4 linked regions of the Homo sapiens genome follow. The protein of the gene in region 1 interacts with the protein of each later gene in a pairwise test. Each region holds a gene or a part of one and is shown on either strand. Other genes may lie near its edges.

Region 1 (7,033 bases):
TTTGCTCGTTCAGCACAACTCACAGATGCCCTAACTTATTTAACCAGAGCACACTAGCATTTTACAAGTCTGATCAGCTAAGTTTCAAATACCTGTAACCCATCTGCTGAAAAAAGAGGGAGACTGGATTGACATAGGGCATAACTGCATCTTCTAACATCAGAAATGATGTTTAATAGAATTGGAGTGGAGAAAGGAGTACTTAATTTCTCCAGAGAATGTACAGCAGAGACGCACCTGCTTATCAAAGAAGCTGCTGTTGATGCTGAAGTTTCTTTTATCAACATATTCACCTGTAATTTCATCAAGGTAATAAATCCCTCTATTCATAACAGCACACTCAAAAGCACCCCTCCTATTTAACTTGAATGAAAAAAGGCACAGAGTGTCTAAAACATTTACTTTTGCTAATGTAACAGTGTTGGCATTTTACTTCATTCCTGATAAGCTGGTGCCAGTAGAAGTGATTATTCTTTTCTTATTCAAAGCCTATCAGCATTTCGAAAAGCTCTCTCAGTCTTATCAGGTGTATGAACAGCACAGTTAACTGAAAACAGTTTGTACTGCTCCTCTCTCTTTCTGCCAAGCTATCTGATAAACCCCCAACTAACTAACTGTATTTACACACAATCAAACATAAGTTGTATCTTCTATGCACTATAGCCAGATTCCAGTTTACCATAGGTTTTTCTGCTGTAACATTAACTTAGCAAAAATGTCAGCCTCCAGTATCCCAAACTGACAACAATCAAGAAAACACTATAAAAGCACTCAACTAGAATGCACTACAAACAGAAACAAAAAGAAAAACAAATATAAAAAGTTGAAGGCAATCTCTTTGGAATTCAGAGGGAAAATCAGGTGTACTCTGTATGCAAATATGGGTGAATATCATGCACTTACCTTTTACCAAAGTAAATGACCCTTTAATAAAACAGATGAATAGAAACAGAAATTGTAAAGGAAAATACTGCCGGGATAGAGGAAGGGAAGGTGTTTAGGAAAGTGTTTTAGAACTTAGCAGGCATTCCCCCCACACTTCAGGTTATCTCAATGTGGCAGCAGAGAAGTTCTATAATGTAAGCAAAGGAAGACAATAGACAATATCACCGAACTTACCCCAGAAACTGAAGACAAGATAGAAAGCAAGGCTGTCACATATGGTGACCACATTCTCAGGATAGATTTTCCAATCATTAAAACCCTCATAAATGCTCTAGACATTAAAGTTTTGTTCACTATAAGAAAATAAAGAAATAAAAAAATACAATTTGAGTTTTTAACCTCTTATTATTTGTCTTATTCTTCAGACTTAACCAACTGAATAGTTCAATATAAAGACATGAAAAAAGAATCATCATTCACATTAATGTAAATAGATGATCTGTTCTCCATTTCTATCTATTAAAAAATGCTTAAACTAGGTCATGGCTCATACGAATTGAAAGACACACCTAATCATTTACGGGTAGTACTTTGGAGCATGAAAGATAACAATGACATTTCTAGAGCATAAGAGAAATCGGAAATCTACTTGAATGACTGAGTAACAACAAATTCCTGACCCTAGGAAAGAATCTCTGCCTGAGCTTCTGTGCATAAATTGTCCATTTGTTCCTCACCTCCCTTTGCTGAATGACTACGAGAGAACAGAAAAAGGCGGCCACATGCTCCCACCTGAGCCCAACTCCTGATGCTGTCTAGACTCCAAGAACAGAATGAGCCTTCCTTTAGATGTGTAGAGCAATAAGATGAATTAGCCAAGTGTGTAGTTCAGTACAATTCAGCTGATAGTTGCTTTTCCATCTGTGACACTATGATCCCATGACTGATGAGGCAGGTCTCATTCAAGTCTATGGATAAAAGGGATGTTTCCGTCATTTCATAGGACCCAGCACCAACTGTATACAGTCACTTTCTCATAGGAAAAAGACATGGTTCTCACCAACCATATACATCTTTCCCTTTCTTTGGTCATGAACAGTTGGTTACGGGTATGATATTCCTCCTCAAAATATCTGATCTGTTTTAATGGATTAATGGCTGAAAAGAAATTAAAAATTATCAGAATATTCTTTTATTTATGTGAAAATGAATACAATTTAACATGCCCATCTTACATTTTTGGAGAAGTTAATGTACTAGGATAATTTGGAATTATGGAGGGCAAAGGGCAATCAATTGAACAACCTCACAGTTTATTTTTTTTCTCTTTAATGAGTACCTCAGTCTATAATTTTTTATATGACCTGTTATTTTGGTTAATTTTGGATGCAGTTCTGGATATATGACTAATATGCATTTACTATTATTTTCAAAGCAACATAAGTTCTTATAAATATTGTTACATAATAACTGCCTTGAAAAGTATCCTTTTAAGATATTTTAACTCACATTGTGAGTATGAAAAAAATACATATTTCTTTAATGAATCCTTTGTTCAAATTCTCAAAAGCCATGAAAAATGAGTAAAATCTTTCTAGAGTAGATGAAAAAGGAATTATCATTTACAAAGGTATTGTTGTGATCATGGAAAAAAAGAATTTAGTGTGCTTCTGCCTATTTTCTGTACATAAGTTCTTAATTTATATTTTAATTTTCTTTTGTTTTTGCATATTGAATATGCCATACAAAAAGAAAGCGTAAGATTTTTTTGTTTTCCAGAAAACATATGCAAAGTGCAACAAAAAGAGGTGTCCCCTGATAAAGGTGGATTGTCCGTGTTCCTTTGGATTCTCCACTTCTTCAAGTTTTTATTTACTTCATAAATAAGAGCCACTGAGGTTCACCACTTCAGAGACTTTTGTCTTTCTAAACCTATTTTACTTTCAAGGTAGTAGAAAAATTTGAATGAACCTAATTTATTTTTTTCTTGGAAACTTATTGCTATCTATGCTATCTGTATTCCTACAGTTCATTTTTAAAGATAAGTAAGCAAGCAAGCTGTTTTTTCATTACATTTATACTAGCCATCAATCTGATATGAGAATTTATTGGTAGCTTCCCTTTTATTTAGTACCATCTTAGCCAACTGTTTGCAGAAAAGGTGTATAATGAAGCAAAGTTAAATTGACATGTCTGTGATATGCCTGACAGCCCTCAGTATGCCCAATATTAATTTGTTTTCTTTGGCTAGGTAAGTCCTGCCAAAGCATATTACACATAATGTGTACTTCCAACCAAAATGATGAAAAGTATATATGAAATTTTGTTTCACTCAAAGAAAAATGAGAAGTCACAGAGGAATATATATGACAAAGACTGTTTTTTATAATTAAAATATAAATGTACTTTTCAGTTCTTCTTTTAGAATTTAATCTAATCTGAAGTAGGCTCCCTGTAAGTTTTGGCAATTTAATAGGTATTTAAAATTTTTTAAATGCCAAAACCAAGTGTTTTCCTTTTCTATATTGTTTGAAAGAATTCCATATAGCCATAGGTTGTATTTCTAATTGTTAGTGTTGCGTGGTTTATAGCTACATTCAAATGCACATATAGATCTTTGCCAGTATACTGAAATGGACTTTAACTGACCAGAAGGAAGCCAATTTCTTTAAAACTGTACCTTTTCTTTCATTGTTTTGCCTCAGTAAGTTACCTTCCAAGTATACATGCATTGTCATAAATTAAAATGACATATCATTTGAAGAAATCAAAACATCAAAAGCAAGTTTCCCTCAAACATTTAAAATTATTTTTAAACATTATAAGGGGAAATTTGTGTATATACACACATATATACAACACTCAATAAATCTAAACTCTCTCAATTCAATAGTTTTGGATAATTGAGTGGAAGATACTTTTGGAAAATCCTGGATAATTGATTAGAAAACACATTTGGAAAATACTGAGAAATATTGTCCAAATCATAGGACAAGAAACATGTGTCACTTCTGGAAAGAAAAAGTAGAGTGGAGAGATGTGTGTGCTAAAACTCTGAATGGAAATTATTTTATTAGCTTAGGTTTCCTAGACCTTACAAAGTACAAGACTAAAAATGAACTTGAAACAAGAATAAAAGGCCAGGTAAATCCTTCAAAAGGCTGTCATTTCCCACCCTCAGATAATAAAGGAGCTAACTTTGATCTGATAGATTGGCATAAAGAAGCGGTTAGCAGAATTTTTTTAAAAACACAATAGCAGTAAATTTGTTAAAATGTTATGCAAATAAATAAAGGTAGGCAATGAATCTAGGAATTTTAAAAAGAACATGAATTAGAACAAGAATTAGAATAGAAAAAGCAATTGCATAAGTGCTTTCTCTCAACAGTCATTTACTAAGTAAATTCACAGACTTCTAAACTTACCTCTTAGAATAAAATTAAATAATTCTGAAATCTATAATGTACTTTATAGAAATATAATACTTATAGTTTTATATATTTGCTTTTAGAAAAAGAGCAAATGATATGTTTATGTAGTACAGATAAAGGAAATTCATATTTTGCATTTGTTTGAAAGCTATCATGCTTTACATTAAGATGTATTTGTCAGGCCCAATTGTGTAAGAAAAGAATGTAGCCAAGAGCTAATTCAAAATTGTTTCTTGGATATGGGCCCAAACCATTAAATTATACATTTAATATCAGTAGTTTCTTTCCTATTTTACAAATTATTTATGATTTCCAGATACTGAATACATGAATAACAATAATGTGAAAATTCTAAAATCAGAAACAAATTGACTTACTAGGTTACCTGTTACCTGTCTAACACACAGTAGTTAAGTAAACTCAGATTAAAATCAGATCTGTAAATACCTGAAATACCAATTCCAGGTTAAAATCATGCCTGGCAAATTTAACTGGCAACTAACTGATTAGAATAATACTTGAGATCTACTTTATTATATAAATGTACATGAATACTTTTAGCAGCATACCTATAATCTACGTATACATTACCTCTTCCCACATACATGCATATTTCACATGCATACTATACATGCACACAAATATACTCCTGGGTATCCTATCGACTGCTTTGAGTTTTAAAGTACCATGTGTGTATTTATTTATTAATAATAGTATAGTTCATGTATATCCACATATACATGGCTATCAAAAAAATCAATGACAAAAACATACAAAATGCAATGGAAAGATTGTCAAGCAGCAGAGATGCTTGGTGTCATCCTTGCACTATCAAATATACACATAAGTATGATTGGAGAAAGAGAGGCTAAATATCTCACTGTCAGAGAATGTAGAGAACTGCAATTCATTCTATCTGTTGTGCTTTAGGACATGACAATTTAATACAATGCCAGTGGATGTAAAAGAGATAAAAATGGAACAAACTGGGCCAGTGTAATCAAAGATTTTCTCCAGAGAGCTGGCTAGGGCCGGAGCTCATACGCACTTATAATAGATCAACATTGTATTGTTTCTCTCTTCCATGAATTTGCTATGAAGCAAAATTCAGAGCAAAGCTTATCTGCTGCAATGACTCTAAAGTTCTACTGAGATCCCTCAGATCCTCTCCTCTTATTTCTAAAAGCTGGATAAGTGATGCTAAAAAGTTTATTTGATATTAATTGGTTTAATAGAAATCATTGCTATTAATTGCCATTTGTATGAAAAAGTATCTCTCATCAGCATATAATTTATTTTATAAAATAATACAAAGCAAAACCTTCAGTGCTTAACATCACTTTACAAGTAAGACAGAGAAATATTTTCTTTAGTCATTGAGCTAAAACAAATGTTGAGGAATTTTTCGTAAGTGATACGGACTTGAGATTGGGCATTATGCCTACCTTCCAAAAGAATGGCTTCTTCTTTGTCTGTAATTCTTGCAGGAGTGAGGTATTGCAAAAGTATTGTTAAATAGAATCATAGAGAAGTTAGCTTCCTTCTTTGATGAATAGCACCAGGTATCTAAAATTAATTGCAAAAGTATGGCCCGGCTAATGAGATGGTCCTTATCTTTTCTCAGCCAGGAAGCACAAGTATTTTTCTGCTGGCTCAATATTTTACAAAAATGCCTGAAGTGTTATTAACTAAGTAAGAAAAAAACTGATTAAAATACCTCAAAGATATAAATTGTTATAAATTGTAAGATCTGAAAAATTTAGAGTTAAAGCTGATTTCCTGCATTATTTTTAAACCTTCTTTTCTTTTCTTTTTTCACTTTAAAAAGAACAACAACAAAAAAATCTTTCCTCCTGCTTCTATTAGCATTTTTAAAAGCTGAGTTAATTATTATTCTTTATAAAATGACCAATATATATTACAGGTCAGATTAAATCAAAGAAATATATCAAATGCCGTCAATTTAGGGAAAAAAACAGAACAATGATACCTTATTTGGGGAAAACACTAGAAAAATGATCATCCATGCAAGAGAATTAATGGATATCCACAAGGGCTTTGCTAATAACATGGGTTAATTACCGCTGCAACACACTAGGCTCAGTAAATAAAGCAGCAGTGCCATAAACACATTAAGATGAGAAACCATCACTGTAAGAAGAAATAGCCAACACCATCACCCTTAGCTCTGCCCAGGAAATGAAAGCTGTTTCTTAGTCCTTTCTATAAAAAAGGGATTTTTAAACTTACCACCAAATGTGTATAGGGTAATACATAAATACCCTGACACAAAGGGCTAGTGGAACATGGGGTACCCATCATTTATCCACCACTCCCATTCAATATATATTTCATTAACTCAGGAACAGTTGTTTTTTTGTTGTTTACTTCAAGGAGAAAATCATATGTTACATAATACTAGTCATCTGGCCATTTCAACTATATATAGTTTGGAACATGTACAATGATTACTTAATTTTTAGGAAAATAGAATTAATCCGCTCACTTTAGTAATGTAATGGGCAAGGTTACAAAACTACAGCTCAAGAATGCTCACAACTAATTGCAGCTGATTGTCACTTCAAGCAGTTTACAGAGAAATCATCTGAAAACTCCACCAACACCACATACCTTTAAGGCTGCAGGTGTTTTCAAGATTGTAGGGAAAAAAAATAAAAAACAAAACATGAAGAAAAGTCATGTGAGCTCCAAGTCTA
Region 2 (7,866 bases), on another chromosome or scaffold:
TCAAATCCTACTTTCTCTACTAACCTGGTGTATATTCTAGGATGAGCTCCTGCTTTTTTTGTCTTTCTACCTTTCTGAGCCTCAATGTGGTAGAGGATGCTAGTTTTTCAGCAATATCCATTCTTCCTCCTTTGTTCTAGAACTTCTAAGCTTCATCTGGTCATATGGCTACCTAGTTACAGACCATATTCCCCAGCCTTTCTTGCTGCTAGTTGTAACTCTGGGATAAAGTTCTGGCCAATGGAAAGTGAACAGAAGCGAGACCTGCCATTTCCATGTTATACTCCTAAAAGAAAAGGTCTTACTCTCTCTTCTTGCCTTTCTCCTTCCCTATGGAAGGAGCACAGTCATGATGGCAGAGCACACTTATGATGGTGGGAGCTGAAACAACCACTTTGGTCCTAGAGATAGAAATCATTAATGAAGATGGCAGAGTTGCCAAACCAATCCTGGTCCGTGTATCTTGGGTGAGCGCAGCACCTGTGACGACTATATGAAACAGACATAATCTTCAATCTTATTTAAGCTGCTGTTTTTGGAGTCTCTTTGTTATAAGAGCTTAGACTGTACTCGAATATATTTACTTTTCTTAGTTGTAAAATGAGAATAATACCTAGCAGGGCTGTTGTAAGAAGGAGTATGCAGTGGGAGCTAAAAAGTGATAGCTATGATTATTATCCAAACTTGTGCAGCTTTCTTTCAGCCTGACATCAAAGTTATGGTCTGGGCAGAATTTCTGAAAGTGAGACACCTGAAGTGGTGTGACTAGCGCCAAAGTCAGTTGCAATCAAGATTAGGCACTATACAACCACCCCTTCACCCCTTCATTCCCCAAACTCTGTGTTCAGCCAGTGGTCAGTTGGCTAGTGAAACAATAGGAAGAGAAAACTCTGTGATGCAGGTAGCAGGTAAAGAGTTAGGACAGATATTTGTAAACAGGAATTTGATTTTCTACAATGACAAATGCTATACAAATTTTATTCTTATCTCTTCGTGAAACTTTTGGTAAGATATCTAGTTCTTGATGATGTTTTTACGGAGTTGCATCTATTCTCAGGCTATGTTTAAGTGTTGAGTTCAGCCTTAAGGGGCAAGAGTAGAGGGAAACTTGAGATACTCAATGCGGCAAAAAAGGAGCAAGCTGGCGAAGAAAGGTTGCATTGTGGTAACAGAAGAGCACACGAGGCCTGCCTCCGCATCCACCACCCTTAGATATTGGACAGTCACTAAAAGTTGGAAAACAGTGATTTTTGAGTGCAGATCTGTAGTGTCAAAATCAGAAAGTCTCGCATTATAATCCTTAATTACAGTCACTTCATATTTCCTCTCATCCGCCTCACCAAAAATAATTGGCATATCCTTCTATTAATAGTAAATTTCAAAATTCATGTGTTCTCAGGAAGTTTTTGGCACAGTTAAGCACATACTTATTAAACAGAAATTTCTCAGCACTTACCCCATCGTATTATGGGCTTGGTTCTCCATGTCAAGAAACTGCTACATCTGGTTTATATTTCTTGATTTTTAATCTGTTAGGAGGAAAATGATACAAGTTCCTAAAATGTTTATATTCTTTAACCTATAAAACATGAAAATTTTGCTACTGGCAAAAACCATTTAGTATGAGTTTTTCTGTGTAGTAGCTCTTGATCCTACAAAATATAGAAACCTGAGTTTTCTGTTTTGGTTTTTTGTTTGTTTTTTGAGACGGAGTCTAGCTCTGTGGCCCAGGCTGGAGTGCAGAGGCACGATCTCAGCTCACTGCAACCTCTGCCTCCCAGGTTCTAGCGATTCTCCCACCTCAGCCTCCTGAGTAGCTGGGACAGGCAATCGCCACCATGCCCGGCTAATTTTTGTATTTTTAGTAGGGACGGGGTTTCGCATGTTGATCAGGCTGGTCTCGAACTCCTGACCTCGTGATCCACCCACCTCGGCCTCCCAAACTTGAGTTTTTTGTTTAGCGACCCCTATGCATTTACGATATTGACTTAGTGATTTATTGAAATATGTGGTACGGACTAAAATGAGCATCCATTTACTACTTATTGAATAATAGCTTGTACTACGTTGTTCGCAAACGGCTCAGTACATGAGAATGAGTAAAACAGAATTCCCATTAAAAGAGAAATTCTAGCCAGATGTTCTCAAACTTTCTATTCTTGTGGTTCCCCTAAAGGTGTGCCTTTATTTGAGTACATTCTTTCTTTGGCCCTATCTGGGTTTTGTTAGGATGACTATAACTATGAGATTTAGGACAAAAAGGCTAAGAATGCCTTTAAAAAGAAATCTTGAAATTCTTCAATGGCTCTATGGGCACTGGCTCACCTCTTGACAAAATAGGGATGTTAGCATTTGCCTAAAGTAAAAAAAAAAAAAAAGTTTTTCTCAGTAACACAATTTTAGTTAAAAAATAATCTATGACGATAACTGGAGAAAGTATTGAAAAGGACTTCAACTCCTCCGAATCACTGAATAAAAGTCAATTAAAGAACATTCAAGGAGGTAGAAAGAGGAGGAAGATTCGAGCTCACATCACTTCCAAATCGAAGAGTTTTAAGAGAGACCCTGGAATTAAGAGAGACAGAGCGGAGAGGAGCAGGGATGGTGAAGGAAAACTTGACCAGAAGGAGCAGACCAATAAATGGTTTTGTAGATTCTCAAATATCTCACTTAAACGTCAGGGAAACTGAGGCACAGACAAGTTAAGTGGCTTGCCCAAGGCCACACAACTGAAGCCCAGTCCTTCTAACTTAGGGCGCAGCTCTGCTCTGGATTTGCAAGCGCGGGCCTCCCCTCCCAGCCTCTGTCCCCGCGCCACGCGCCCCTCCAGGACCCGCGCTCGGTTCAAGCCCAGCCTCCCGCAGAGCGGCCGCCCTTTTGGGGTTCCCCTGTCCCGCTCGAGGACCCGCGCAGCCTGGCCTTTGGGTGAGGGTCAGGGGCGAGGCGGGGCCGGGAAGGCCAGGAGCCATTACCTGCGCTGCGCCGCGCTCGCCCGAGAGGTCTGAGGCGAGGGCGCAGGACCGCGTATGTCACCTCCCGCCCCGCCAGGCCCGCCCCAAGGGGCCCCGCCACCCGCCGCCGCGCTCCCGCCGCCTGGGCCCTCCCGCCGCGCGACCAACGAGGCAGTTGGGCCTCTCCCTCCCCGCGCGCGGCGCCGCCGCGTGTTGCCATGGGGACGTCGCGGCCCGAACTCGTGGCCGTCGGAGTGGGGGATGGGCGCGGCGGCGGCGGCAGGCGCTGCCCTGTGCGGCTCCTCGGCTGCCTCCAACCTCACCCCGCGCGAGCGCGACCTCGCTGTCCCGCAGTTATACGTCCAGTGCCCCCTCTATTCTGGGTCCTTTCCTCTTTGTAGTCCCACTGCCTACCCCAAGGCTGGGCACCCAAGCTGCAGCCCGGAAATACTTGTTGAATGAATGAACCAAATAGATCACGAAGGAACTGTAAACCGCTGGGGAGTTCATCATCCAGGTTCCTTAAATCCCCTTGGCCCTCTTTCCTCTTACCCAAATTTGAAGTGGCATGAAAAAGAAATAAACTTCGGGTAAAGAGAACTGCTTTTATCTCCGTTCACCCTAGCGTCTTCCAGCTGGGAGGAGCTGGATTTCACCGCTCAGCCCCTGGTTCCTGTGGTGATAACAGCATCAGCTTGTACCTGACTTTCCCGTCAAGCGCGATGGGTCCTTAAAACACTGCCAGTCAGGCGAACGGACAGTGTTGCCTCCCTTCAGGGAGAAGAGAATAGCTTCTAAGAGGAGAAGCTGGAACGAAACTCAACGGGACTGATTCCAGATTCTTTCCTTTTTCCACCAAATTCCAAGAGTCATTGATGACAGATTTTCTGTCTCCATTTCATAGAGGAAATAATAGGAAAGAATATATGTTTTCCAACTGACATCTTGAGTGATTTGTTTTAAGCACTTGAATTTTGTATTTGATTTATTTTAACCAAATAATTCCTTCCTAACACATGGAGTCGACTACTTAATTCTTAAAGTCTTTTATTTGCACTTTACTTTCATCACTTTAACGCTAATTTGCTACTTTAATATTCTATGAATTTAATGCGCACCCACATCCCTCCGTCCAGGTCCCATCTGAATTTTATAAAACCATTATGCTGTTTCTTGACAAATTGAGCTTCATAGATGAATTGTATACGGTCACCTGGGATATCAGTTCTAACAGGTGTTTCATAGCTCTCATGTTTGCATGAAGAGAGTGACTGTGTTATCTTAACTTGAAACTTTTCATTATTCTGAAAACGCGTATATTCTTTATTCTTATCTGAATTGAATGGGTCAATGTATTTTTTCTAACCCAAGGAAGGGAAAATGGAACTAGGAACGAAATTTAATGAAATCTCAGGATGCCCAAGATCACTAAGGCTATGTAACATTGCTAAGTGCTTCCATGTTCATTATTTCTTTAGAGGCTCAGAAATACACTCAGCAAGTGTATCAGGTGTTATTAATAGCTTCTTTCAGAAGATTAGGAAACCCAGGCTTAGAGAGAATGAAGGATATGTCCATGGATTTGTCCATGGATTTGCACTTGAAATGGATGATACATCAAGATGTAAACCTAGATCATCTTACTCCAAATCCAGTGTTCTCCAAACATTAAGGTTGAGTCGGTTTCTTTAGCAGTCAGGATCTTCCTTAGCAAACTGTAGGTTTAATGTTTTCCTTTTTTTTTTTTTTTTTGAGACGGAGTCTCGCTCTGTTGCCCAGGCTGGAGTGCAGTGGTGCCATCTCGGCTCACTGCAAGCTCCGCCTCCTGGGTTCACGCCATTCTTCTGCCTCAGCCTCCCGAGTAGCTGGGACTACAGGCACCCGCCACCACGCCCGGCTAATTTTTTGTATTTTTAGAAGAGACGGGGTTTCACCGTGTTAGCCAGGATGGTCTCGAACTCCTGACCTCGTGATCCACCCGGCTCGGCCTCCCAAAGTGCTGGGATTACAGGAGTCAGCCACCGCGCCCGGCCAGGTTTCATGTTTTCACATAGAAGAATAGGTGCAGGGGAATGCTTGCAAAAACATTTAAGAAGACACATACTATAATGGATTTTAGGAAAATTTAAATATAGAATAGGAACATCCCATTCAATTTAATACGAATAAAGGTTTTCATTTCAGGATGAGAGTTAAGATTTAAAATGCAAATACCTGTTCCCTACCCTGCTAGTAAGAAGTAACAGTAAAGACTTGAATTCACCTTGAAATGTCCTTATTATTAGATATTTTCAGGTAAGTTTGTTTTGAAAGGGATGAGACCAGGAAAGCTCCAGTCTAAAGGAGAGGAAGAGTGTGGCCAGGGTGGAAATCTTCCTAAACAGGGTTAGTGAGAGTTGACAAGAGAGCTTAGTCATGAAAGAAAATTGGAGGACATGGCAAAATGAGGATAAGATAAAATGTAACCGGAAATGGTCAAAGGAGAATATAGGGGGCATAAATGGATGAAGAATAAGGATGACCTTTGGAAGAAAAGCTAAGGGACCAATTATAGGGAATAAATAATAAAGCAATAGGCTAAACCTTTAAAATTTAAAAACCTTCATAACAAAATCATTTCATGGGAAAATTTATAATAGCAATATAGTAAATGAATGTGCAACTTTAGCATATGCGTGGCTATATAAAATAACTTCATGTCTGTCTTTGTATCAACAAGGAAATATTTATTTTTATATTTTTTAAAAAGCAAGTTTAAAAATTATATATATTCATTATAATTTTAAAAACTAAGTATACCATTATGCATAGAACATACCTTAAAAATTTTTTTAAAACAATTATGATGAAATAATCATAGAATTGTAAGAAACTGTAGAGGAGATACAGTCTAACCCAGGGGTCCCCAACCCCTGGGCTGCATACTGGTACTGGCCAGTGGCCTGTTAGGAACCTGGCCACACAGCAGGAGGTGAGCAGCGGGCAAGCATTACGGCCTGAGCTTTGCCTCCTGTCAGATCAGTGGTGGCATTAGATTCTCATAGAAGCGCGAATCCTATTGTGAACTGCACATGCCAGGGATCTAGTTTGTGCACTCCTTATGAGAATTTAATGCCTGATGATCTGACATGGAACAGTTTCATCCTGAAACCATACCCCCTGGTGCCAAAAAGGTTGGGGACTGCTGGTCTAACCTCTTCATTTTGGATGTGAAGAAACTCAGATCCAAAGAGTTATAATTATTTGATTAGTCTCATTGTTAGTTAATGGCAAACATTTTCAAAGGAATTTTCTGGAGATGCTTAATACACATTCTAGTTGAGAAAATAACCATTCAGCAGGAAGAGATTCAGTATTTAGAACTAAGATCACCTAGAGCAGCACTGTCCAATGGAAATATAATGCAAGCCACTTGTATAATTTTAAATATTCTAGTAGTCAAATTTTAAAAAGTAAAAAACAGATAAAGTTTATTTTAATAACACATTTATTTCATCTAATATATCTAAAATATCATTTTAACACCTAGTCAATATAAAAATTATTGAGATATTTTATATATTTTTTGCATAGTTTTTACTTAAAGCTGAATCAGTTCATTCTGGCCACATGTAGGTGCTTCATAGTCACACATGACTGGTGGCTATCATATTGGACAGGGAAGCTGGAGAACATGGGTGCCTGGTCAATGTCCTAAAGCTCTTCATTAAAGTGTGAAGGGCAATGCAAAGAGAGAGATTCTTAATTATTTGGGGGTGATTTGAGAGAGATTTTGAAAATGTCCTACCTCAGTATCCTTACCAACCTGCTCTGGGCTGCGATAGGCATTAGACGTCTGAAGAGAAATACATAAATTTGAGCCCTTAACCAGGCAGCATGAGGCCTTTCATTGTGTCATGCCTGCTAGGCCTGTCAATCATCACTATCAGGGCTGCTTCTCCTCCTGATGGGACTTTAGAAGCGCCAGGTTTCACTTGAGGATCAGAAAACAAAGCCAAATTCTTTGAAAAAATGGCTATTATGATTTCTAAAATTCTCTACTTTTACTTTTTATGGACTTTTAGAGTTTCGACACTGTGGTTTTGAAAATGTCATCCTTTTTCAGATATTAAGGGGAGCTAAAGGAGAAAGATTTTTGTATAGTCGTGAGCTAAAGTTTTAAAGATGTAATACTTATTTCCTGGAGCCATTCATGACTAGGACAATGTTGAAGTGAAAGGGCCCTAATGGGAAAAACAAATTTGTAACCAGAGAGGAAAGTTGGGCCTGCCTGCTTAATGGCCTCTTTTCACTTGGGTCAACTTCTTCTCTGAGCTCAACTCTGCAGAAACCTTTCGGGTCACTAGCTAATATGATGGAAATTACTGGGTCAAAATATAGGAAAAGACATGAACCTAGAGAAGTGAGCCCAGCACTTAAGGCTGCTTTCAAAGGCATTTGATGCTCTGGAAGAAACAGCTGCAAAACTGAGCAGCCGTTTGATAGTCTTGTGAAAAAAAGGGGCAGAAGACAAAGCCTGGGCTCAATAAATAAATAAACATCCCCTGTCTTTAAGCTGGGGCTCCAGATGACTTTACCCTCAGGAAAATGGTGAGGTGGAAATAAATCGGTACTCCTACTGACTCACAGCCAGCTTGCAATCATCTGTAATTTGGGACAACCTCCATCTTTGAACTCAGAATAGGGTCATACTAGACTGGTAGGTTAAGATACCTGGAAGAAGCAAGCAGGAATTTTCCTAGAAATAACTTCTCAAATACAAAGGCCAGAACAAAAAGAAAAATAGAAATTCTAAAACTAGAAAAAAATTACTAATAACCAAAAATAAGAACACAACAGATATGAATAATGATAGATTTGGTACAGGTGAAGGGATAACCTGTGAATTGGAAAACAGAACAGAAAAAAGTATCCA
Region 3 (6,860 bases), on another chromosome or scaffold:
AGAATTCACAATGTTGGCCAGGAGCGGTGGCTCATGCCTGTAATCCCAGCATTTTGGGAGGCTGAGGCGGGCAGAATCACAAGGTTAGGAGTTCAAGACCAGCCTGGCCAACATGGTGAAATCCCATGTCTCTACTAAAAATACAAAAATTAGCTGGGCATGGTGGTGTGTGCCTGTAATCCCAGCTACTCGGGAGGCTGAGGCAGAATTGCTTGAACTGGGACCCAGGAGACAGAGGTTGCAGTGAGCCGAGATCGCACCACTGCACTCCAGCCTGGGCTACACAGCAAAACAAAAACAAAAACAAAAAACAAGACAATGTCATAAAGAACCTGGTGATAAGGTAGTTCAGTATAATACATGGCTGAAATGGCAACCAATAGTTTCATTATATGATTTGTGTTTCTATTTACCCAACATTCACTTCCCTGGAGTGTTAACATTATGAGGCAACAAATCCCAAGCCCTTACTTTACTCTTGTAATTCCAGAAGTATCCTCCCCCAAAAGAGATCAGAGCAGCAGCCCAACCCCAGTCCAGAGAGACTCACCAATCAGCTCAGGGTCTGGAACAGACTCCTGGAGTTTGCCAGCAATAAGCTGCTTCAGAAATGAAATACTATAGCCCCCTAGCGAGTATTCTCCCAGTTCTGTCTCTGGCAACCGAAGAATAGACTTTGGAGTAAGTGGCTGGTCAGCCAGCTTCACCGCCAGGTGCCAGTCTGAGAGAGACATCCTCTCTCTTTCGCGCTCTCTCTTTCTCCCTGTAAAAGAACAAAACCTCAGTGGTTAAAAGACAGACCACCACTCTACTCCACCCCCACCCACCAAAGGGTTGAATGAAAGACAATTCAATGTGACACTGTTGAAGAGGCATAGGGCGTACCATCAGGAGGCCAGAACTAGAATCTGGGGTTCTCTCTCTACTCATACTGTGATGGACAGCTCTCTAGGCCTCAGTTTCTTCATCCCTAACGTGGACATAAAAACGCCATCCAATCTAATAGGAATGTTGTGAGAGAGATCATCTAACCCTCTCCCTTCTGTATGCCCCTTTTTCCAATTTTCTTCAACTGTTGCTTGAACCAGTAGAACAGCTTTATAACAAGTTCCCTGCCTCTTGCCTCTCCCTATCAAATATCTATGCTGCCACCTAACAACACCCATCATTTTTTTTTTTTTTTTTGAGACGGAGTCTCGCTCTGTTGCCCAGGCTGGAGTGCAGCGGCGCGATCTCGGCTCACTGCAAGCTCCACCTCCCAGGTTCACGCCATTCTCCTGCCTTCCTGCCTCAGCCTCCCAGGTAGCAGGGACTACAGGCACCCGCCACGACGCCAGGCTAATTTTTTTTTTTTTTTGTACTTTTAGTAGAGACGGGGTTTCACTGTGTTAGCCAGGATGGTCTCGATCTCCTGACCTCGTGATCCACCTGCCTCGGCCTCCCAAAGTGCTGGGATTACAGGCATGAGCGACTGCGCCTGGCCACAACCCATCATTCTAAAACACAGATCTGACCAAGTCACTTCTCTGCTTAGAACTCTTCCAATGTCGGGCTGGGCGCGGTGGCTCATGCCTGTAACCCTAGCACTTTGAGAGGCCTAGGCGGGCGGATTGCCTAAGCTCAAGAGTTCAAGACCAGCCTGGCCAACATGGTGAAACCCGTCACTACTAAAAATACAAAAATTAGCTGGGCGTGGTAGTGCGCACCTGTAGTGCCACCTACTCGGAAGGCTGAGGTTGCAGTGAGCCAAGATCACGTCACTGCACTCCAGCCTGGGTGACAGAGAGAGACTCTGTCGCAAAAAAAAAAAAAAAAAAAAAAAAAAAAGCCAGACGCGGTGGCTCACACCTGTAATCCTGTCACTTTGGGAGGCCGCGGAGGACGGATCACTTAAGATCAGGTGTTTGAAACCAGCCTGGCCAACATGGTGAAACTACATCTCTACTATAATAGAAAAAATTTGCAGGGCGTGGTGGCAGGCGCTTGTAATCCCAGCTACTTGAGAGGCTGAGGCAGGAGAATTGCTTGAACCCGGGAGGTGGAGGTTGCAGTGAGCCGAGATAGCGCCACTGCACTCCAGCTTGGGCGACAGAGACTCCGTCCCTCCCTGCCCCACCCCGGCCCCCCAGAAAAAGACCTCTTCCAATACCTCTAAACCATCTATATAAATTAAGTCTAAACTTCATCGCCTGGCTTACAAAACTCCCTGCCAGCCTCATTCCCCAACAGAGCCCTACCCCTGCAAAGGACCTCCACAACATGTAAGTACACACTCATAACAAAGCTCTCCCCTATTTTACACCTCTGCTCATCTAACTCTGCATGTAATTTCTCTTCCCTTTTTGGCCTTTTAGCAAACTCCTACCGAAACCAACACAGATTCAATAACCTCAGTCCCCTCTCTTTCCTCTGTTGTTCCCACATCCCCTCAGAACAAAAGGGCTACAAATATCTGCTTGCCCCCTCCTCCACCCCAATTCTTGAATGCCCTTGAAAACAAAAGACTAAAGTTTTCTTCATCCTTGTCCCCATACCTGGCATACATGGAACCCCAGAAAATAAATCAGAAACTCTGACGGCGGAAGAATCTTGCAAAGCAAGATAAGTTCTTGTTATAGTCATCATTATTGCTTCCAAAGAGACCTCTGATAGAGAAGAGGAAAGAAAAGGCTGTGAAGCTGCCTAGCAGACCTTCAAGCATCCTCAAGGTATCTTCCACCTCAAGTTTATGCCAGAAGGAGGTCGTTTTATATACCATGTCTCACTTAATCCTCACAACGGTTCCCTAAGGCAGGCATTAGCCACATTTTAAAGATGAGGGAAGCAAGACTCAGTAAAATCACTGGCCCAAGGTCACAGATCGCTAGTAATGGGGCAGGAACACTATCCGGTGGCGACCTCACCGCTCCAGTGGGACCAGCTACTTGGCTGACACACATCGAGCCCGCGCTGCCCAGGGCCCCAGCGCCCTCACCCGTCCCGCGGAAGGAACCCGGCCGCACTGCCGCCGGTGTAAACACTCACTCTGGCCCTCTCGCCGGAAACCGGAAATTCCGCGCTGCATTCTGGGAGTTGCAGTTCCCGCTGTGGCCCCCCGCCCCCTTATAAACAGCCAGTCTACAAGAGGCGCTAGTTGCAAAGCTTCCGGTTCTGGGGGAAGGCGTGGCTTCCGCGCTCTTTGAAATGTCCGGCGCCGGAATGTCTGGGTGCTTTGGTTGGAGAGGGTCCCATTTCCAGTCATTCTTCAGCCTGGTGATTCCCGCGCTCCCCTGAGGAGCATATGAAGTACGTCGGTTCTGCCAGGTTGGAACGCGCTGCTGGACACTCGGCCGTAAGGCGGATCCCGGATCCCCTCCCACTCCGACCCTTCCCTCCAGAAGGGCCGGTTCCCAAACGGCCCCTTTAGACACATCCAAGCGGTTGCCGACGGCCCTCACGATGAAAACTGCTGTCCGTTGGTGAAGGCAGCCTCTTCTGTGCTCCTCGCCGCTGACTTCCTGAGGCGGACCTACCTGTGGAGGCATACCAGGAACCAGACGATGACCCCCTCCAAAAGTTGGGTCTTTGAGGAGAGCTACTAACTTGGGTTCCTGGTACACCCTCTACATGCAGTGGTGAAGCTTATCTAACAGTCATTCATAGAATCAGTTTGGGAAGGGGAATTTTCACTGAACTCTCATAGAGAAACTGTGTTTTAGATAACAGAAAGTTCTGCACGGTTAAAATGGAACAGAAATTTTTTTGCACAGAAATTAGGATTACCGAAAATACTGAAGAAAGACTACCTCTGATTGGACTCTTCTCAAGGAATTAATAATTCAAGAACTAAGGAAAGAAAAAAGTGATTATATGAAAATACTGAAGTTGATCGTAGCAGCTGAAGGCTGATCCTGTGTGGGTAAATGTAAACGCTGAATTCCCACATTCCAATGTGCGACCTGGGATTAAGGCAGCAATTGAGCAGGGTAATGTTACTGAGGAGAGCGAACAGATCGCAGGATCTCAGAAGGCCTAACATTAAAGGCAGATCACCCCTCTGTTCTCATAAGTTATATGGGGAGTTTTGAAATGGCTTTCACTGTCTTCAGGGAGTTTATCTTCAGGATAACTCCCATGTATGTTGTGGGCGCATTAGGAACCCATGGCTGTTCCCAAAGTCTCCCTTTCCCATCCTACCCATTTTTAGATATACCCCCTCTTTCAGTAATCCTTCCTAACTAGACTTCTTTAGACTCCTTCCTCTCCTGCCTACTAAGTTACTTGCACCTGAGCTCCATAATTTATCAAAATTATATATTGTGAATACTTTCCCAGTTCATGATTTTTTTTTTACTCTTAATGGTATTAGATAATTTAATTTCATTTTAAAACTTTTTTTTTTTTTTGAGACGGAGTCTTGCTCTGTCGCCCAGATTGGAGTGCAGTAGTGGCCGATCTCGGCTCACTGCACCCTCCGCCTCCCGGGTTCAAGAGATTCTCATGCCTCAGCCTCTTGAGGAGCTGGGGCTACAGGTACCTGCCACCACGCCCGGCTAATTTTTGTATTTTTAGTAGAGACGGGGTTTCACCACGTTGGCCAGGCTGCTCGAACTCCTGACCTCAGGTGATCCCAAAGTGCTGGGATTACAAGCGGTAGCCACCACGCCCGGCCTGAAATTTTGTTGTGATGGTTAGTGCCTTTTGTGTCCTATGTAAGAAATCTTTGCCTGCCCTCGTTATGAAGATACTATCCTAGGTTTTCTTCTGTGTTATTTTATCTTTCACATTTAGGTCTATGATTAATTTCACATTAATCTTTGTATATGATAGGAGTTAGACATCAAGATTCATCTCTTCCATATGGGTGTACAATTGATCCAGCACTATTTAAAAATTTTGTTCCCACTGAATTTCAGTGGCAGCTTTGTCATAAATCCGGTGACTATGTATGTCTGGGTCAATTTTTGACTCTTATTCTGTGCCATGGGTGTATTTTTCTGTCATTGTGCCAATGTCACACGTCTTGATTTCTCTAACTTTAGAGTAGGTCTTGATATCTGCTAGCCTTTTGGCTTTAAGAGGGGCATGGCTATTCTATCACCAATAGATGACAATTGTTAACTTTGTTTTATGCTTCTAAAAGTATAATTTTACTGAATCTTAAATATGTATATTCAACAAAATTTAGATTACACTGTACATTTGTTTAGTAATCTACATATTTTACCTAGCTTGAATATTTCCCCTGTGCTCAAATATTCTTGAGACTTTTTACTTTGAAATAATTTCAAGTTTACAGTACAGTTGCAAAAATATTACAAAATAATGCCCTCATACCCTTAACCCAAAGTCCCCAGTTGTTAATAGTTTACATTTACCTCATCATTCTTTCTCTCTCACTCTCTCACTATGCATATTGTTCTTTTGTTTTTCCACCCGATCCGTTTAAGAGCCAATTACAGACATTACCCAAAGTATTTCTGTATTTCCTGAAAACAAGGATATATTCTATGTCACAGCCACAGTACAACCCAGCAAAATCAAGAAATTAATAAATACAATAATACCATGTAACTTACAATCTCATTCAGCTTTCATCAACCATTCCAGTTGGGTGGAGGCTGATCATCTCTCTGCCATTTTCATAAGTTATGTCATAGATTTTCACATCTGTCACATCATTCATTTCTCCAAAGAGCCTTAGTTCCTTTTAGTAAGGAATGGTATTTAGAAGCCAAGTTTGGATGCTAGGTGTGTTTATTGCTACTGAGATGTCATTATTTCCAGTCTATTTCAGTGACTAGACCTAGCAAATAAATGAATATTGATATACACACCCATTCATCTATATTTCTATGAAATATATTTAAATATGTGTGCATATAGATGTGTATATGTATATATAGATCTATGTATATGTGAGCATATATATGTGCACATATATCAAAATATATATGTATATATAAAATATGAGTTCACACCAATACCTCAAATTCCAATCCAATACCACATATTTTCCTCTAGTCTTCCTCTTCTCTATAATTTTACCTCCCTTCTGCAATAGTAGGAAACTTGATTCTCATTTTCCACAATATACTTGTATTTTCTCATGTTGACATTCATGGTACCTGATATGGTTTGGCTCTGTGTCCCCACCCAAATCTCATGTTGAATTGTAATCCTCAATGTTGGAGGAGGGGCCTGGTGGGAGGTCATGATGTTTGGATCATGGGGCAGACTTCCCCCTTGCTGTTCTCATGACAGTGAGTTCTCAAGAGATCTGGTTGTTCAAAAGTGTGTAGCACTTCCCCCTTTGCCCTCTCTCTCCTGCTCTGCCATGTGAAGATGTGCTTGCTTCCCCTTCACGTTCTGCCATGATTGTATGTTTCCTGTGGCTTCCCCAGCCATGCTTCCTGTATAGCCTGCAGAACTGTGCGTCAATTAAAGCACTTTTCTTTATAAATCACCTGGTCTCAGGTAGTTCTTTATAGCAGTGCAAGAACAGACTAATACAGTACCATAACAATGGAGCCTCCTCTTCAACTTGATTCTTGAGTCCTTTTGACATAACCCTGGAGGTTTTTGATAGCTCCCTGCTATCTAGCATGACAAGAGTTCCTAGCTAATCTTGTACTTCCTGCCCTAGGCATAAAAATTAGCCATTTCTTCAAGAAATTCATATGGTTTTCTGTGGGAAATGGTATATTAAGACCACAATCTGGGCACTAGGGATGCTTATTGCTACTGAATTGTTTGTTACTTGTAAGCCACATTAGTGGATGGAGCTAGGGGGAGATCTATATCCATAGAGATATAAATAGAGAATATTTATACTGCTACTTCAAATTCAAGACTACAGAGGTTGGGTTTGGTTTTGGCTT
Region 4 (4,766 bases), on another chromosome or scaffold:
CTTTCCGCCTCAGCCCCTCTAGTAGCTGGGACTACAGGTACGCACCACTGCGACCAGCTAATTTTTTTTTTTTTTTGAAAGATGTGGTTTTGCCACGTTGGTCTTGAACTCCTGATCTCAAGTGATCCGCCTGCCTCAGCTTCCCAAAGTGCTGAGATTATAGGAGTTAGCCACCACGCCTGGCCCTTGATGTTTTCATACTATGGGTTATGATCCATTAGTCACTCATGAAAACATCAGGATACACTGTAGGTGAGGATACAAATTTTGTGAAACTTTTCTTTTGGTTATATATGTGTATGTAGGTCAAAATGTCTTTCTTACTGTCGTTGAAAGCCACAGGTTTAGAGAGCTGGGAGGACAGGGGCTCTCCCAGTCCCTAATTGCACCAAATGCCTCGTATTAATCATAGTAGAGCTAAAATGAAAAAAAAAAAAAAAAAAAAAAAAGAAACACACACCTCAGTATCTATCAACAACAGTACCACAGAGAAACTCACATTGTTAATTAAAGTATATAATGTAAATATGGTATTGAAAGTATAAAAATTAAAGGCTTCTGAAAAACTCAAGAAGGGTCAAAAGGCTATACAAGCAAGTAGTATACAGATTGTTTCCTTAAAAGATAAATTTTAATATACAGAATAAAATCCAAGATGATTTTATTATTTTTCACTTTCCCAAAACTTGTGAGCATGAATGCTTCTAAATCTGACCAATGAAGTTTACATTTTGGTCCAATACATTATGAGACTAACTTGTATGATCAAGTCCAGCTTGATTATCATAAATCATAGAAGTTAACAATTTACTCTGAGAATCTGTTGCTAATATAGATGATGGATTTCCAATTTTTTCTTAGCTAAGAATTTACTCAACTTTAGCTCAGAACCAGATTCAAAATATCTTCTTTAATTAGCTGGTCATCATTTTAGGCTTAATCTAGGCAAATTATTTAATACTCAATTGAAGATCATATAAAACCTCCAAAATAAATAAAAAGTACACAAAATTATTAGCTTTTGTGTACAATACAGAAAATACAGGTCAGTTCTGGACCAAAATAATTGCATTAAAATACAAAAGGTGATAGGGAAGAATTAAAAGATTTGCAGTGACTGCTTTTGGTGGTCAGCTACAACAAGCCAACAACCCTCAGCTATTTTGGAAAGTGAAGGTGAGTCTTAATTTGCAGATAATGAATGTCTTCGGTAGTTTAAAAAAATATAAACTCTAAAAAAGCTCGTGAATCATATACAAAAGCAGCTATTTGAGACCAAGGTTGAACACCAGAAATTGTGTTAGCACCACCAGCAAGCACAGGGTCCTCTGACTCTTCCGCCCTCCTATCTTGTGCAGAATGCAGACTTGAATGTTGTACACATCATTTACAGTTACAAAAATCGGCCTTGAGTACAGGGTTCCTGTAGGGTAGTCTTAAGTCCTAAGAGGCACCAAGCGGTTACAAAGGCTAGGTGACAATCCAAATCACAAGGTCCGACGATATAATAAATCCCGTGTTGCCTTATCAACTTTTTGCTGGTAGTCCTCCAATTTGTCAAGTATTTTCTGGGACAGCTATAAGAGAAAAGAAGGAAAACATTACATAACAGCTCAACAATGGAAAAATATTGAAGTTATTAATAACTTTGACTTCACCAAGTAGATTCCACCTTATAAAGATGTTAGCCACTCTGCTTCATAAAATCACCATTTGTTATAGGAGTCTCCTCTGTGACTCTACTGATAAAACTAGGCCTCTCTGTTATATACAACATTTCAGTCTCATTTTCTGAATGAATTTTCTAAGTATGGAAATCGTACCAGTATTTCTAATAAAAGGATCACTAACTCTTTTCTCAGAACCAGAAATGCTGCATCTGATATAACTAGTTATTAGCTGCCAAGTGAAATATAGAACTAATATTTTAGATAGGCTCAGGAGGCACTCTATCTCACTGGTAAACAAAATAAGCCATCACTATAATGACTCAAGGAAACACTATTGTTTTTTATGTTAAGGCAAGCAGGGTGAATATATGACTCCTGAGAAATGTTGTTATATATGCCAACTTCCCTCAGGACAGTGATAATTTATCACACTGTATTTCTTTCTTTTTCAGGGTGGGGGAATGGAGTCTCACTCTGCTGTCTAGGATGGAGTGCGGTGGTGCAATCTTGGCTCACTGGAACCTCCGCCTCCTGGGTTCAAGCGATTCTCCTGCCTCAGCCTCCCGAGTAGCTGGGATTACAGGTGCCCGCCACCATGCCTGGCTAGTTTTGGTATATTTAGTAGAGATGGAATTTCACCATGTTGGCAAAGCTGATCTCGAACTCCTGACCTCTCAGGTAATCTGCCCGTCTCAGCCTTCCAAAGTGCTGGGATTATAGGCGTGAGCCACTGCGCCCGGCCTATCATTGCTGTATTTCAAGTACCTGTTTACCTTGTAGGGTCTGCCCTACCAAATTAAAAGCTTTAAAGGATGGACCGACTGCTTGCCATTTGTCTCTGTATAATTAACACTTACACAGTTCCTCATTATGTTTTCTTGATCCTGTTACTTAGATCCTCTGCCTTATCTATAAAGGGACTGGGCAGTTTGTTAAGGGCCAAAAATAGGCTTTTGTCTTCCCTTTCTAATCCCGGAGAACTGAAGATCAAGCTGTAAGGTGTAACTGCTAGTGCAGGGGCTTACACAAGACGTCTCATGAAAGGGCTGACTTACTGCGATGTTGTGACTGTTGGCACTGTTCTCTCCCAGAGCTTGGAGAAGCTGATCAATAGAGGAGTATGGAAGCCACACCATTGGGGCTGTTGCGGACAGTGGAAACTAAAAGGAAAATGTTTATTTGAAAACAGTCTGCAAAGTGTACCATTTCTTCTGGGTAGTTGCTTTCATAGGACTCTGTAGAATAAAATACCCTTTTTTTTTTTTTTTTTGAGATGGTCTTGTTCTGTCGCCCAGGCTGAGTGCAGTGGCACAATCTCAGCTCACTGCAACCTCCGCCTCCTGGGCTCAAGCAATTCTTGTGCCTCAGCCTCTTGAGTAGCTGGACTACAGATGTGCACCACCATGCCTAGCTAATTTTTTTATGTTTATTTTTAGTAGAGATGGGGTTTCACCATGTTGGACAGGCTGGTCTCAAACTCCTGGCCTCAAGTGATCCACCTGCCTTGGCCTCCGAAAGTGAGCCACTGTGCCCGGCAAAATAAAATGCATTTTTTCCCCCAACCACAAGAAACTGTGTGTATACATGTGCATGCACACAATGGGAACCCTCTTTTCTCCAACTGGGAAACTTGTCATTTTTTTCGGTTAAATATATTTAAAAATTCATGTCGGCTGGGCCTGTAATTCCAACGTTTTGGGAGGCCGAGGTGGGCGGATCACAAGGTCAGGAGTTCGAGACCAGCCTGGCCAATATGGTGAAACCCCGTCTCTACTAAAAATACAAAAATTAGCCAGGTGTGGTGGCACAGATGTAGTCCCAGCTGCTCGGGAGGCTGAGGCTGAAGAATTGCTTGAACCCGGGAGGCGGAGGTTACAGTGAGCCGAGATCATGCCACTGCACTCAAGCCTGGGCGACAGAGCGAGACTCCGTCTTGGAAAAAATAAAAAAATAAAAATAAAAAATAATTTCATGTCAACTTTCTTTTTTTTTTCAGACAGGGTCTCACTCTGTCACTCAGGCTGGAGTGTAGTGGCATGATCATAGCTCACTGTACCCTCAACCTCCAGGGCTCATGTGATCCTCCCACCTCAGCTTCCCACATAGCTGGGACTATAGGCACGCACCACCATGACCAGCTAATTTTTTTCTATTTTTTGTAGATAAAGGTTCTCACTATGTTGCCAAGGCTGGTCTTAACCTCTGGGTTTAAACGATCCTCACACCTTGACCTCCGAAAGTGCTAGGATTACAGGTGTGAGCTATTGCACCTGGCTGATTTCATGAGGGTTGAAGCTGTAGTTAACTACACCTATTTAGACCTGGCTCTTCTATTATATTTGCCATCTGTATGAGCCTGTGATAACCTCTGAGCCTGTTCCCTCATGGGTTAAAAAATAGAAAATTAAAACATTCCTTCATAAGGCTGCTATAAGGATTAAATAAAAAAATGCTTGTAGAGACTTAACACAGTCCCGGCACACACACAATACCATTTTGTTTATCTCTCTCCACTGAATCCTAACTAATGCCATATTATTTTGATAGAGAAAGATGAAATTCCTATTTTATAAACAGGAGACTAGAGATTCCTAGAGTGTCAATATTTAGTTGTATAACTACAGATAGTAAAGGTTAAATACACTAACATATAGTTCAATTTACTCTCAGATTCTCACCTTACATAGCATGATAATAAAAAGAAATGCCTAGGCCGGGCATGGTGGCTCACATGGGTAATCCCAGCACTTTGGGAGGCCGAGGTGGGTGGATCACTTGAGGTTAGGAGTTCCGAGACCAGCCTGGCCAACATGGTGAAGCCCCATCTCTACCAAAAATATTAAAAAATTAGCTGGATGTGGTGGCAGGTGCCTGTAATCCCAGCTACTCAGGAGGCTGAGGCAGGAGAATCACTTGAACCCGGGAGGCGGAGGCTGCAGTGAGGGAGTAAGTGGAGGCTGCATCACTGCACTCCAGCTTGGGCAACAGAGCAAAACTCAGTTAAAAAAAAAAAAAAATATATATATATATATATATATATATATATATATATATATATATATATATATATGCGCCTATACCGATGTTCCTCAACTT

The links.
Region 2: the proteins of ESRRG (region 1) and DEUP1 interact in binary tests that used the Homo sapiens proteins (3 or more experiments, as listed by UniProt).
Region 3: the proteins of ESRRG (region 1) and UBL7 interact in binary tests that used the Homo sapiens proteins (3 or more experiments, as listed by UniProt).
Region 4: the proteins of ESRRG (region 1) and NUP160 interact in binary tests that used the Homo sapiens proteins (3 or more experiments, as listed by UniProt).

What each region holds. Positions count from the first base shown.
Region 1 is NC_000001.11:216,713,397-216,720,429, forward strand, and holds part of ESRRG (estrogen-related receptor gamma), read right to left. Parts: intron 1,854-7,033; exon of another isoform or gene 1,678-1,853; intron 1,239-1,677; exon of another isoform or gene 1,120-1,238; intron 1-1,119. UniProt on the Homo sapiens protein: Orphan receptor that acts as a transcription activator in the absence of bound ligand. Binds specifically to an estrogen response element and activates reporter genes controlled by estrogen response elements.
Region 2 is NC_000011.10:93,325,879-93,333,744, reverse strand, and holds the start of DEUP1 (deuterosome assembly protein 1), read right to left. Parts: upstream 3,004-7,866; 5' UTR 2,973-3,003; intron 1,530-2,972; 5' UTR 1,486-1,529; coding exon 1,457-1,485; intron 1-1,456. UniProt on the Homo sapiens protein: Key structural component of the deuterosome, a structure that promotes de novo centriole amplification in multiciliated cells.
Region 3 is NC_000015.10:74,458,134-74,464,993, forward strand, and holds the start of UBL7 (ubiquitin-like protein 7), read right to left. Parts: upstream 3,028-6,860; 5' UTR 2,904-3,027; exon of another isoform or gene 2,626-2,903; coding exon of another isoform or gene 2,535-2,625; intron 971-2,534; exon of another isoform or gene 886-970; intron 764-885; coding exon of another isoform or gene 735-763; coding exon 551-734; intron 1-550.
Region 4 is NC_000011.10:47,777,618-47,782,383, forward strand, and holds the end of NUP160 (nuclear pore complex protein Nup160), read right to left. Parts: intron 2,831-4,766; coding exon 2,726-2,830; intron 1,578-2,725; coding exon 1,488-1,577; 3' UTR 501-1,487; downstream 1-500. UniProt on the Homo sapiens protein: Functions as a component of the nuclear pore complex (NPC). Involved in poly(A)+ RNA transport.